Linked DNA regions of Homo sapiens: region 1 is linked to region 2. The links come from fine-mapping of genetic effects on gene expression. Tissue or cell type: lung. Region 2 holds a variant in brackets; the other region holds the start of a gene. All regions are shown on one strand. Distances are from middle to middle.

Region 1 (5,224 bases), 140 kb before region 2:
TAGTTTAAATAAATGTCTAACAATGTTTCCAGAAGAAAATGTGCTGATTCATTTTGAGATGCCAGGCACATACCCTGGCCTGCAGGGAATTCCCCTCCAAGCCAAATGATGATTCTCATAGACTGTGACAGGGACTGTCTAAATAGACACTCAAAGCTCTCCTATTCCAGTGCCATCATGACATCTTTATGATAAAATCTTCTCCCCATCATTCTAACTAAAAGCTATAGCTTTCCTCCTCTGAAGTCTAGACTGCATATCTGACAGCTTTTCTATCTACTGTATTGTCTTATACTTTCAATTTCCTCATGAGTATGTCTTAACTCTTGATGAGGCTGTGAACTGGTGAGAAAAGGCTCTGTTCCTTTTTTTTTTTTTTTTTTTTTAAGACGGAGTCTTGCTCTGTCGCCTAGGCTGGAGTGCAGTGGTGCAATCTCGGCAACCTCTGCCACCCGGGTTCAAGCGATTCTCCTGCCTTAGCCTCCCGAGTAGCTGGGATTACCGGCGCCTGCCATCGTGCCCGGCTAATTTTTTTTATTTTTAGTAGAGATGGGGTTTCACCATCTTGGCCAGGCTGGTCTTGAACTCCTGACCTCGTGATCCTCCCGCCTCAGCCTCCCAAAGTGCTGGGATTATGGGTGTGAGCCACAGCGCCCGGCCTAAGGCTCTCTTCTTATAACCTCTGCAATCCGTGGCACATAAACACTCATTAAATAGTTACCAAAGAAATGAAGGAATTTATGCCGATTGCTTTCCAGATGACACATGCAGGCAAAGTCAGGAATCTGGTTTTAATGGCCAATTTGGATTTATTTCCCAAAAATATCCTACAGCCTTATTATCAGGAAGCTGCCTTGAAAATGTGTGCTAGAGTCTACAGTAGGAAATGGCTCAAAGTATGAATCAGTGCAAAATGACCTTGAGTAACATTGGTTACAGTCTGTCACATGCCTACATGTGCCAGGTAATTTACAAACATAACTCTAAAACAACCATTCTGTGAGGAAACGGGGGCTTTGAGATAGTGTGATGTGACTTACCTAAGATCACAAAGCTTTTAAGGGATGGAGGCCAGGATTCCAAAGCTAGCATTGGAACGAAAGTCTTCCCGACACCAGCCCAGGTTGTGAAGATGAGCTAGGAGGACCTACTGCCTCGCTGGCTGGTTAGGGCTGGGCGTGCCTCCCTGGTGGAAGGAAGGTACATACCTTCCTTCTCCCCCTCTATTTCCTAAAACTGCTGAGTCAGAGGATGGCCCTAACCTTCCCGACCAAGGGGGACTTTCTATCGGGAGCACATGAGCAGCTCTTCTCCCTAGCCAGTACCTTCAGATTCCAAGCTCATGTTATTTCGATATCACCACACTGATTCTCAGCTCCCGGAAAAACAACTCAAGGCTTGAGTCAGACACTCCATGTGTTGTTCAATGATCCCGCCTGCAACAATGTTTATTATAACCAAAAAATATAAACAGCATGAATGTCTATTAATAGCGGAGTGGTTAAATAATAGTACATCCGATGGTTATCGGATGGAGTACCATACCACGCAGATGTTAAATGATAAAAGTGTACTGTTAAATAGAAAAAGCAAGGTATGTACATATATGTTTGTACAGGCAAAGGAAATTCACTGGGGGGCACTTATTCATTCAACAAATATGTGTTAAGCATTTTAAGGTTACCTGTGAAACTAACAGGGGTTACCTGTGAGGAGTGCTTCAGAAGGAAAAATAGTAACTTGTACTTTTCAGTAAACTTCTGCACATAATTTTAAGGACGAACATTGTTTTTTTTTTTTGAGACGGAGTTTCGCTCTTGTTGCCCAGAATGGAGTGCAATGGCGAGATCTCAGCTCACTGCAACCTCCGCCTCCCGGGTTCAAGCGATTCTCCCGCCTCAGCCTCCCGGCATTGCTTTTTATAAAGTCAAAAGAAAAGGAAGTTTGATAAAACAAGTAGAACTATCCGATAAATACTCGCCTGGAAAGGGACAGGATTATAAGAAACAGGTAATAAGGAGCTTAAAACCCTCTGCAGTTCTGCAGTGAGGATGGTCGTGGGGGCATACAACTTTCCGTTTCAGGTCAGTTTAGGTAGGGCAGGTGGGAACTCACTCTAAAACGAGAAACCGGGGCTGATGACAAAATGCACACGTTTAGCTTCTGGCGGCCCAGGTCTTCCTAGCCGCAGATTCTGAGACGTGTATCTGCAGGTGGTGTGAAATTGAAGCCGGGGGAGCGGTTGCTTTCGGTCTCCGAGGTGCGCCTTGCACACTGGGTCATTCAGCTCCCAGGCTCGGCTCGGAGCTGGACCACTCCCTCCCCTCCACCAAAGAGGCAATGTGGGCTCCAAGAGGTCACAGCGCTGGGATGGGATTTCGACCCCGCGCTGCCCTCAAAGGCCACCTCCTCGCAGCTCTGCTCCCGCCGGCAGCTCCCGTTCTGTCCAACTCGGAAGCCGCCCGCCGCCCTCGGCGTCCACTCCACAGGCCCGGGGCCGGGGCCAGCTCCGCGGGGGAGGGGTCGGTGCGGAAGGGGCGGGGTACCGGGCCTTCCCCGCGCGACTCTGCCTTCTACGGCCCCGGCCCCTGCCTCTGGAAACCCGGAGCTCGTGCGAGCCCCGCCCCACGGTCGCGGCGTGCCTGTCATTTCCTCTCCGCAGGGCGTGCGGGTCTCGAAGATGAGGGAGCAACAACGTCCACGACCGGGCTTCTCCGGCACCTTGGGCTTCTTTCCGCTGGGACTCGACAGCGGCTCGGCTCCGCAAGCTCTCAGCGCCCAGGGTGGCGGCGACGACGCTCCCCGAGGAGACGCGAGGAAGACGGGCCCGCGCTTGCTGGGACTCCGTCAGGGCGCGTGCGCGACCCGGGCGCGGCCGGCTCAGGCTGCGGCTGCGCAAGGCGGTGCCAGACGCTGCGCCTGCGCAGTGGTGGGGCGGGGCGGGAAGGAGGGAGGCGGTGGTAGCGGCGGCGGCTGCTGAGGAGGAGGAGGGGGAGCGGAGGGAGGTGTTTCTGTCAGTTCCGGCTGTTTGTTCGGGAAGTGGATCCGCCGCTGCCGGAGCAGCCCGAAGGGAGCTGCGGATCGCGAGGCCAGTACCGACCCCGCCCGCCCGCGCGCACCGCCCCCGCCCGCCATGGCCCGGGACTACGACCACCTCTTCAAGCTGCTCATCATCGGCGACAGCGGTGAGGGCCGCAGCGGCCGGAGGCGGCGCGGGCCCTGCCGGGCGCGGCCCGCGGGGGCCTCGGGGCGGCAGGCGGGCGGGGAGGTGCCGGCCCGTGCGGGGCGGGCGGGCGGGGCAGCCCGGCGGTCTGGGCCCCAGGGGTGCGCCGAGGGGCTCCGGACCGCGCCGAGGGGAGGTTGGGGCGCGGGGCGGAGGGGCCAAGCGCGCCGGGTCCAGTCATCGCGCCTGTTCCTGCCTCACGTGTGACCTTGGTCAAGTCGCGCGATCTCTGGAGTTGGAGAGACGTGGGTTCGAGTCTCAGGACTACCACCTGCCTCGCGCTGACCTTGGGCAAGTTGCTTCGCCGTCCTGAGCCTCAGTTCCCTCATCTGAGAAGTGGGGATGTGCCTTGCTGGGTGGTGTGAGGATTCGATGGGATAAAGTAGGAAAAGTGCGTAGCGCCCTACCCGGTAAAGTAAGCTCGAAGTAAATGTTCACTATTGTCATTATCATCAGTATCCTTTATAAGCGTCAGTTTCTTCCCATCTAAAATGAGGACGTTCTCAGAACCTGCCTCATGGGATTGCCGTGAGGTTTAAATGAGGTAAGTCGGATAAAGGGCTTTGCACAGGGTCTGGCATATTCCTGCTGAATTATTATATCCCTGCGTGGTTCAGTTTCCTCATCTGTAAGATGGAATGATAGTTGGATCTGCCTTATGGGGTTGATGTGAGTATTAAGTGAGATTCTGCAGTGTTGCTCACAGCTCCTGGCACATAGTGAGTTGTCACTGTTTGCTGTTACACTACTATATACAGAGGGGTCCTGGGGATGGGACAGCCAAAATTATAAAAGTGCTTTGGCCACACACACACACTGCTTGAGGGCTCCTAGCTCTGATCACTGCTCTAGCTCCAGTGCCTAGAACAGTGCCTGGCACCCAGTACATGCTTAAGACATATTTGCAGAAGGAATTAATGAATATTAAGTGTCCTTCGAAAAGGTAGACTGGTTTCTGGGAAAAGGTGGAGGGTTTTAGAGCTGTTTGGAGTGTGGCAGGTGAGCAGGTTTATGGAGTGACCAAGAGGTCAGGAAGGCAGGCCCCAGAAGGTTTATGGGAGCGAAACTGAGGTGCTGGGGTTATATGATGTTCATGAAAGAGTCTTGGGAGCATGCTCAGTTTGTAGACCAGACCTGAGCTGAGTGTGGGGAGGGATGTCTTATGATTGGAGGCAGAGGCCAGGCTGGTGGTAGAGCCCATGGACTGTTAAGGAAAGGGGATCAAATCAAGTGAGCGGTATGACTTGGGATGTAGGAGTGTTGGGTAGCGATGTCAGAGCTAGGTCAGGGAAGTGGGTGGTTTTGGCCTCCCTTTTAAAGCTGGATGGAGATGTGGTTGGTGGTTTGGATCAGGTGAAGGATGGCTGAGGTTTCCGTGGTTGCTGGAGGAGGGGAGAGGTAAGGGGGAAAGCTGGGGGCTAACCAGGGAGATGGAAGAGTAACTGAGGTTGGGGAAGGAGGTAGAAAGGTGGAGTACTGACTGGTTATGGTTTGAATGAAGGGAAACCAGGCAAGCTCTGGAGTGTTCTCTTGGAGATGGCCTTTGGTATTCTTCAGGGTCTTGAGGCTTCTTCCTTTACATGATTTCCTTGCAGCCCTGGCCTGGGTTCTGAGGGACTGGCACTGGGGCCATTTCTCTCTTTTTGGAGTGACAGCCCGCCGTGGTCAGGAGCCTTTATCCCTCTGCAAGACATCTGGACCTCTGCGTTGATATCCAACAGTGAAAAGCCTAAACTCAGCAGGAAGATGCAGCTTGTTGGCTCTTCTCCTCTGTAAAGCCCAGGGGATGGGTTTGGCCCGCTTTCTCACAGTACATTTTGTGTGATGAATTGATTTTTCTCTCCGAAGTCAGGTGTGGGAGAAGACTCATTGGGTCGAGATTTATGTGGTCTAGCTCCTAGGTCAGCCATGTAGGCGTAGGTTGTGCAGAGGAGATGGATGCTGTGCTCTTTGATTTCTCCCGACATTGAGATCCTCAAAGCTGGGAGATGGTAGCCATGG
Region 2 (5,224 bases):
CTGGAATGCAGTGACATGATCTCGGCTCACTGCAGCCTCTGCCTCCTGGGTTCAAGCAATTCTCCTGCCTCAGCCTCCCGAGTAGCTGGGACTACAGGTGTGTGCCACCACACCTGGCTAATTTTTTGTATTTTTAGTAAAGACAGGGTTTCACCATGTTGGCCAGGTTGGTCTTGATCTCCTGACCTCGTGATCTGCCTGCCTCGGCCTCCCAAAGTGCTGGGATTACAGGTGTGAGCCACCGCGCCTGGCCTACACTTATATTTTTTAGAGACAGGGTCTTGCTCTGTTGCCCAGGCTGGAGTGTAGTAGCATAATCGTAGCTCTCTGCAGCTGCGAACTCGTTGGCTCAACCAATCCTCCTGCCTTAGCCTCCCAGGAAGCTAAAACTGCAAGCATGTGCCACCATGCCCAGTTAATTTTAAAATATTTTTTGTAGAGACAGGGTCTCGCTATGTTGACCAGGCAGGTCCCAAATGACTGGCTTCAAGCAATCTTCCCACTTTGGCCTCCCAAAGTGCTGGGATTACAGGCATGAGCCACCACACCCAGCCAGCAAAATAATTTTTTAAAGTTTCTAAACTATAAGGAAATCTATTGAATTATATAGTTACCAAGGCAGTTGGCCAGTATTTATTGAGACACAATTGACGGTTGGTGTGCGTTTGGTATTATTATCTCATTATATGAGAATTTCAGGATTTTAGAAAATTTTAGAAAACATATCAGGCATGGTGGCTCATGCCTGTATCTCAGCACTTTGGGAGGCCAAGGCAGGCAGATCACTTGAGGTCAGGAGTTCGAGACCAGCCTGGTCAACATGGTGAAACTCGTCTTTACAAAAAATACAAAAATTAGCCAAGCGTGGTGGCTCATGACTGTAGTCCCAGCTATTCGGGAGGCTGAGGCAGGAGAATCACTTGAGCCTGGGAGGTGGAGGTTGCAGTGAGCCAAGATCACGCCACTGCATTCCTGCCTGGGTGACAGAGTGAGTTTCCATCTCAAAAAAAAAAAAAAAAAATTTAGAAAACGTGATTCTCATCCTCAAGGAGTATTCCATCAGTGTTTGTGTAAGAGTGTGGGCCGAGCGCGGTGGCTCACTTTGGGAGGCCGAGGCAGGCGGATCACGAGGTCAGGAGATTGAGATCATCCTCTCTAACACGGTGAAACCCTGTGTCTACTGAAAATACAAAATATTAGCCGGGCATGGTGGCAGGCTCCTGTAGTCCCAGCTACTCGGGAGGCTGAGGCAGGAGAATTGTTTGAATCCAGGAGGTGGATGTTGCAGTGAGCCAAGACCATGCCACTGCACTCCAGCCTGGGTGACAGAGCGAGACTCTGTCTCAAAAAAAAAAAAAAAAAAAAAATGGACATGGCGTCACCAAGGCATGTCCATAATTCACACCACAGGAAATTTAATATAGTGGTTAAGAACATGGTTTCTAGAGTAAGCTCTGGTTTCAAGTCAAGGCTCCCTCAGTTACTAGCCAAAATAACCCTAGGAAAGTTAGTTAACCTTTCTATGCACTATGTAAGTAAATAATTTTGTTACTAGTGGGTCTTAAGGCCCAGCACAGTTCCTAACATATGATAGGAACTTGATACTTTTTTTTTTGAGATAGAGTCTTACTCTGCCATCTAGGCTGGAGTGCAGTGACACAATCATTGTTTGCTGCAACCTCTGCCTACCAGGCTCAAGCAATGCTCCCCACCTCAGCCTCTTGAGTAGCTGGTACTAGAGACAGGCGCCATCACACCCAGCTAATTTTTGTATTTTTAGTAGAGATGGGGTTCACCATGTTTTCCAGGCTTGTAGGAACTTGATACATTTTTATAATGAACGAATAATGTGTCTAAAGCACTTAGTACATTGCTAAGACACAGTCAGAGTTTACTCAATAAGATGTTAAAGACAAAAAACCAACAAAAACTCTTGATCTCAGAATACCAGATTTGTTACATATTAATATGGTCCACATGGTTTGTGTTAACCTCTATACTCATACAAAACATTTATCGCATAGAGGCTATCATGTGATAAGTTGGAGATTATGTGGGGGAAACATATATGTATACGCTGTGATCCTTACCCTCAAAATGTTTATAACTTAATAAACAATAGAAAACATAAACCAGAATTAGTTGGCCATGGTGGTGCACACCTGTAGTCCCAGCTACTTGGAGGCTGAGGCAGGAGGATCGCTTGAGCCCTGGAGGCAAAGGCTGCAGTGAGTCGAGATCACGCCACTGCACTCCAGAATGAGACCCTGTCTCAAAAAGAAAGAAGAAGAAGAAAAAAAACATAAACAGGACTGGGTGCAATGGTTCATGCTTGTAATCCCAGCACTTTGGGAGGCTGAGGCAGGAGGATTGCTTGAGTCCAGGAGTTCAAGACCAGCGTGGGCAAGAGGGCAACACCTCATGTCTTATTTATTTATTTATCTCTTTATTTTTTGAGAGAGTCTCACTCTGTCACCCAGGCTGGAGTGCAGTGGTGCAATCTTGG[C/T]TCACTTCAAACTCTACTTCCCAAGTTCAAGCCATTCTCTTGCCTCAACCTCCTTAGTAGCTGGGATTACAGGTGCATGCCACTATGCCCGGCTAATTTTTGTATTTTTAGTAGAGATGGAGTTTCACCATGTTGGCCAGGTTGGTCTTGAACTCCTGACCTCAAGTGATCCACCTGCCTTGGCCTTCCGAAGTGCTGGGATTACAGGCATGAGCCGCCACGCCCGGCCTGTGAAACCCTGTCTATACAAAAAATACAAAAGTTAGTTGGGCGTGTGGCATGTGCCTGTAAGCTCAGCTATACAGGAGGCTGAGATGGGAGGAATGCTTGAGCCTGGGAGGTGGAGGTTGCCATGAGCTGAGATCGTGTCACTGCAATCCCAGCCTGGAAGACAGAGTGAGACCCTTTCTCAAAATAAATAAATAAATAAATAAATAATAAAAAATTCAGAGAAGGGAGACAGTGCTAGATACAATGGGGAGCCACTGGACATGTTGAAACTGTGAGGAAATCTGAATAAATCTGTACTTCAGGAAGACTAACCTGGCACTGGTGTGAAAGATAGATTCAAGGTGAGAGTCAGGAGTCGGGGAGAACAATTACAATACTGCTGGAAGAATCTATATGGAAGTTCTGATGGAATGGAAGACAGAGGTCAGAGATGTTATAAACAAGAGAAATAATTGCTAAATTTGGAGTCTGATCAGCTATTAGAGAGTGAGAATGAAGAAAAAGGAGGATTCAGAGATGCCTCTGAGGTTACCAATGTGGACAACAAACAGAATGATGGTGTCTTGCCAGAAACAGGAAAACTGGAAAAATAGCAAGAATCAGATAATTAGGCCCTTTGATTTGGCTATGGCCAAGGACCTCTCACCTATATAGGGAAAAAGGCAAGCGTGAAATCAATATACATAGCAATGATGAGAGCGAGTTGTTCACACAGACACGGTGGCTCATGCCTGTAATCCCAGTACTTTGAGAAGCTGAGGTGGGAAGATCATTTGAGCCCAGGAGGTTGAGGCTGCAGTGAGCAGAGATTGCACCACTGCACTCCTGCCTGGGTGACAGAATGAGACCCTGTCTCAACAAAACAAAACAAAACAAACAAAAAAAGAGTGAGTTGATGACAAATGTATCAGTGGGATTGAAAATGCAAAGTTCTTCCTCATCCAGCAGAAAGCATCCTAGAGAAAACTACAATTGATGCAGGAGAAGAAATGAGAACACTTGACAGGAGGAGGAAGATCGTCCCATGTTTGGAAAACCATTGGGGTAGATCTGGCAGTGGGACAGGGAACTGAACAGGGTTCTGTGCCTGTGGATCAAGTGACCATTTCCCCATTTTCCTCAACTCCCATCTACATCAAAGTGCATGGGACTCCTTTTCCTGACAGCCAACTTCTCCCACCCACTCCCTATCTAATAAAGGAAGGGATGATGGAAAGAAGCAGGCCTTCCTGATGGGTTTAGAAAATAATTGCATAGAACAAAGCTATATGTATGTTTTATTATGCATTTGCATTTACAGAAAATCAAAACTTTGAAAAGGCTTATATTCAAGAAGACATATGAAATCACCCAATTAAAAGATAGATGGCAAAGACTCAAAAACTGATTATAGAATTTAATTTAAGAAAAATCAAGAAATACATCAAAGGTATAAATCTGCATTTCCCTGGGGTCTCAATTCAGTGATTCAGCTTCTTTTTAGTAAGTGGGTCAGAAAACTGCTAATCCTGTAATGATTTTGTTCAACTGCACCCAGCTGGTAGATGTATTTCTTGCAGATCTAAAAAAAACAAGTATGTTAAAATTGTCAAAGTTAATGTCAACCCAATATCCAATTGCTTTGTTTATCAACCATGAAACTTGATTGAAAGTCTGTTCTTTTAATTGGCAAGTAGTAACAATGTTGTTTGTATTTTTGAGATGCTGTGTTCCGTGTTGCACATTTCTATGGTATAGCTGATACAATGACACCATATAATAGGGAGTCTCAGGCAGGGCGTGGTGGCTGACGCCTGTAATCCTAGGACTTTGGGAGGCCGAGGCGGGTGGATCACGAGGTCAGGAGTTCGACACCAGCCTGGCCAATATGGTGAAACCCTGTCTCTACTAAAAATACAAAAATCAGCTGAGTGTGGTGGCGCACGCCTGTAGTCCCTAGTCCCTGGTGCTTGGGAGACTGAGGAAGGAGAATCACTGGAACCCGGGAGGCAGAGGTTGCAGTGAGCTGAGATCGCGCCACTGCACTCCAGCCTGGGTGACAGAATAAACTCCGCCTCAAAAAAAAAAAAAAATAGGGAGTCTCATACTGGATGAAATTCAACAGGACAAACCGGTTACACTACAATATGAGGGCAAATATAGGAGCTGATGTATTGGCCTTGTGAAAACAGCTCAGGTTTGAAAACAAAAAACAAAAGGCATAAGTCATCATAGAGAAGCTTTTTTTTTTTTTTTTTTTTTTTTTTTTTCTGAGACGGAGTCTTGCTCTGTCGCCCAGACTGGAGTGCAGTGGCCTGATCTCAGCTCACTGCAACCTCTGCCTCCCAGGTTCAGTGATTCTCCTGCCTCAGCCTCCCGAGTAGCTGGGATTACAGGCGCGCACCACTATGTCCAGCTAATTTTTTTGTATTTTTGGTAGAGACGGGGTTTCACCATGTTGGCCAGGCTGGTTTCGAACTCCTGACCTCATGATCTGCCTGCCTCGAA

Evidence for each region. PIP is the estimated chance that this variant, and not a neighbour inherited with it, causes the effect.
Region 1: it holds the start of RAB35-AS1, and the variant in region 2 is fine-mapped to the expression of RAB35-AS1 in lung (TOPMed, PIP above 0.99).

The regions. Positions count from the first base shown.
Region 1 is chr12:120,114,560-120,119,783 of GRCh38, reverse strand. RAB35-AS1 (RAB35 antisense RNA 1) reads right to left here and starts at 2,877. Exons shown (of 1, transcript NR_182302.1): 1 at 781-2,877. It overlaps RAB35 (RAB35, member RAS oncogene family), which reads left to right and starts at 3,031. Exons shown (of 6, transcript NM_006861.7): 1 at 3,031-3,185. The coding sequence starts at 3,134. RefSeq lists enhancers at 963-1,012, 1,053-1,122, 1,153-1,252, 672-1,463, 2,256-3,047 and 1 more and silencers at 1,965-2,143, 2,131-2,190, 2,281-2,630, 2,791-3,100, 3,201-3,330.
Region 2 is chr12:119,974,092-119,979,315 of GRCh38, reverse strand. It overlaps LOC112268087 (a long non-coding RNA gene), which reads right to left. Exons shown (of 4, transcript XR_002957391.2): 4 at 4,119-4,298. Among named protein-coding and RNA genes, the nearest start is that of BICDL1, 13 kb to the left of the region's middle. The variant C/T (reference allele first, on the strand shown) is at 2,507.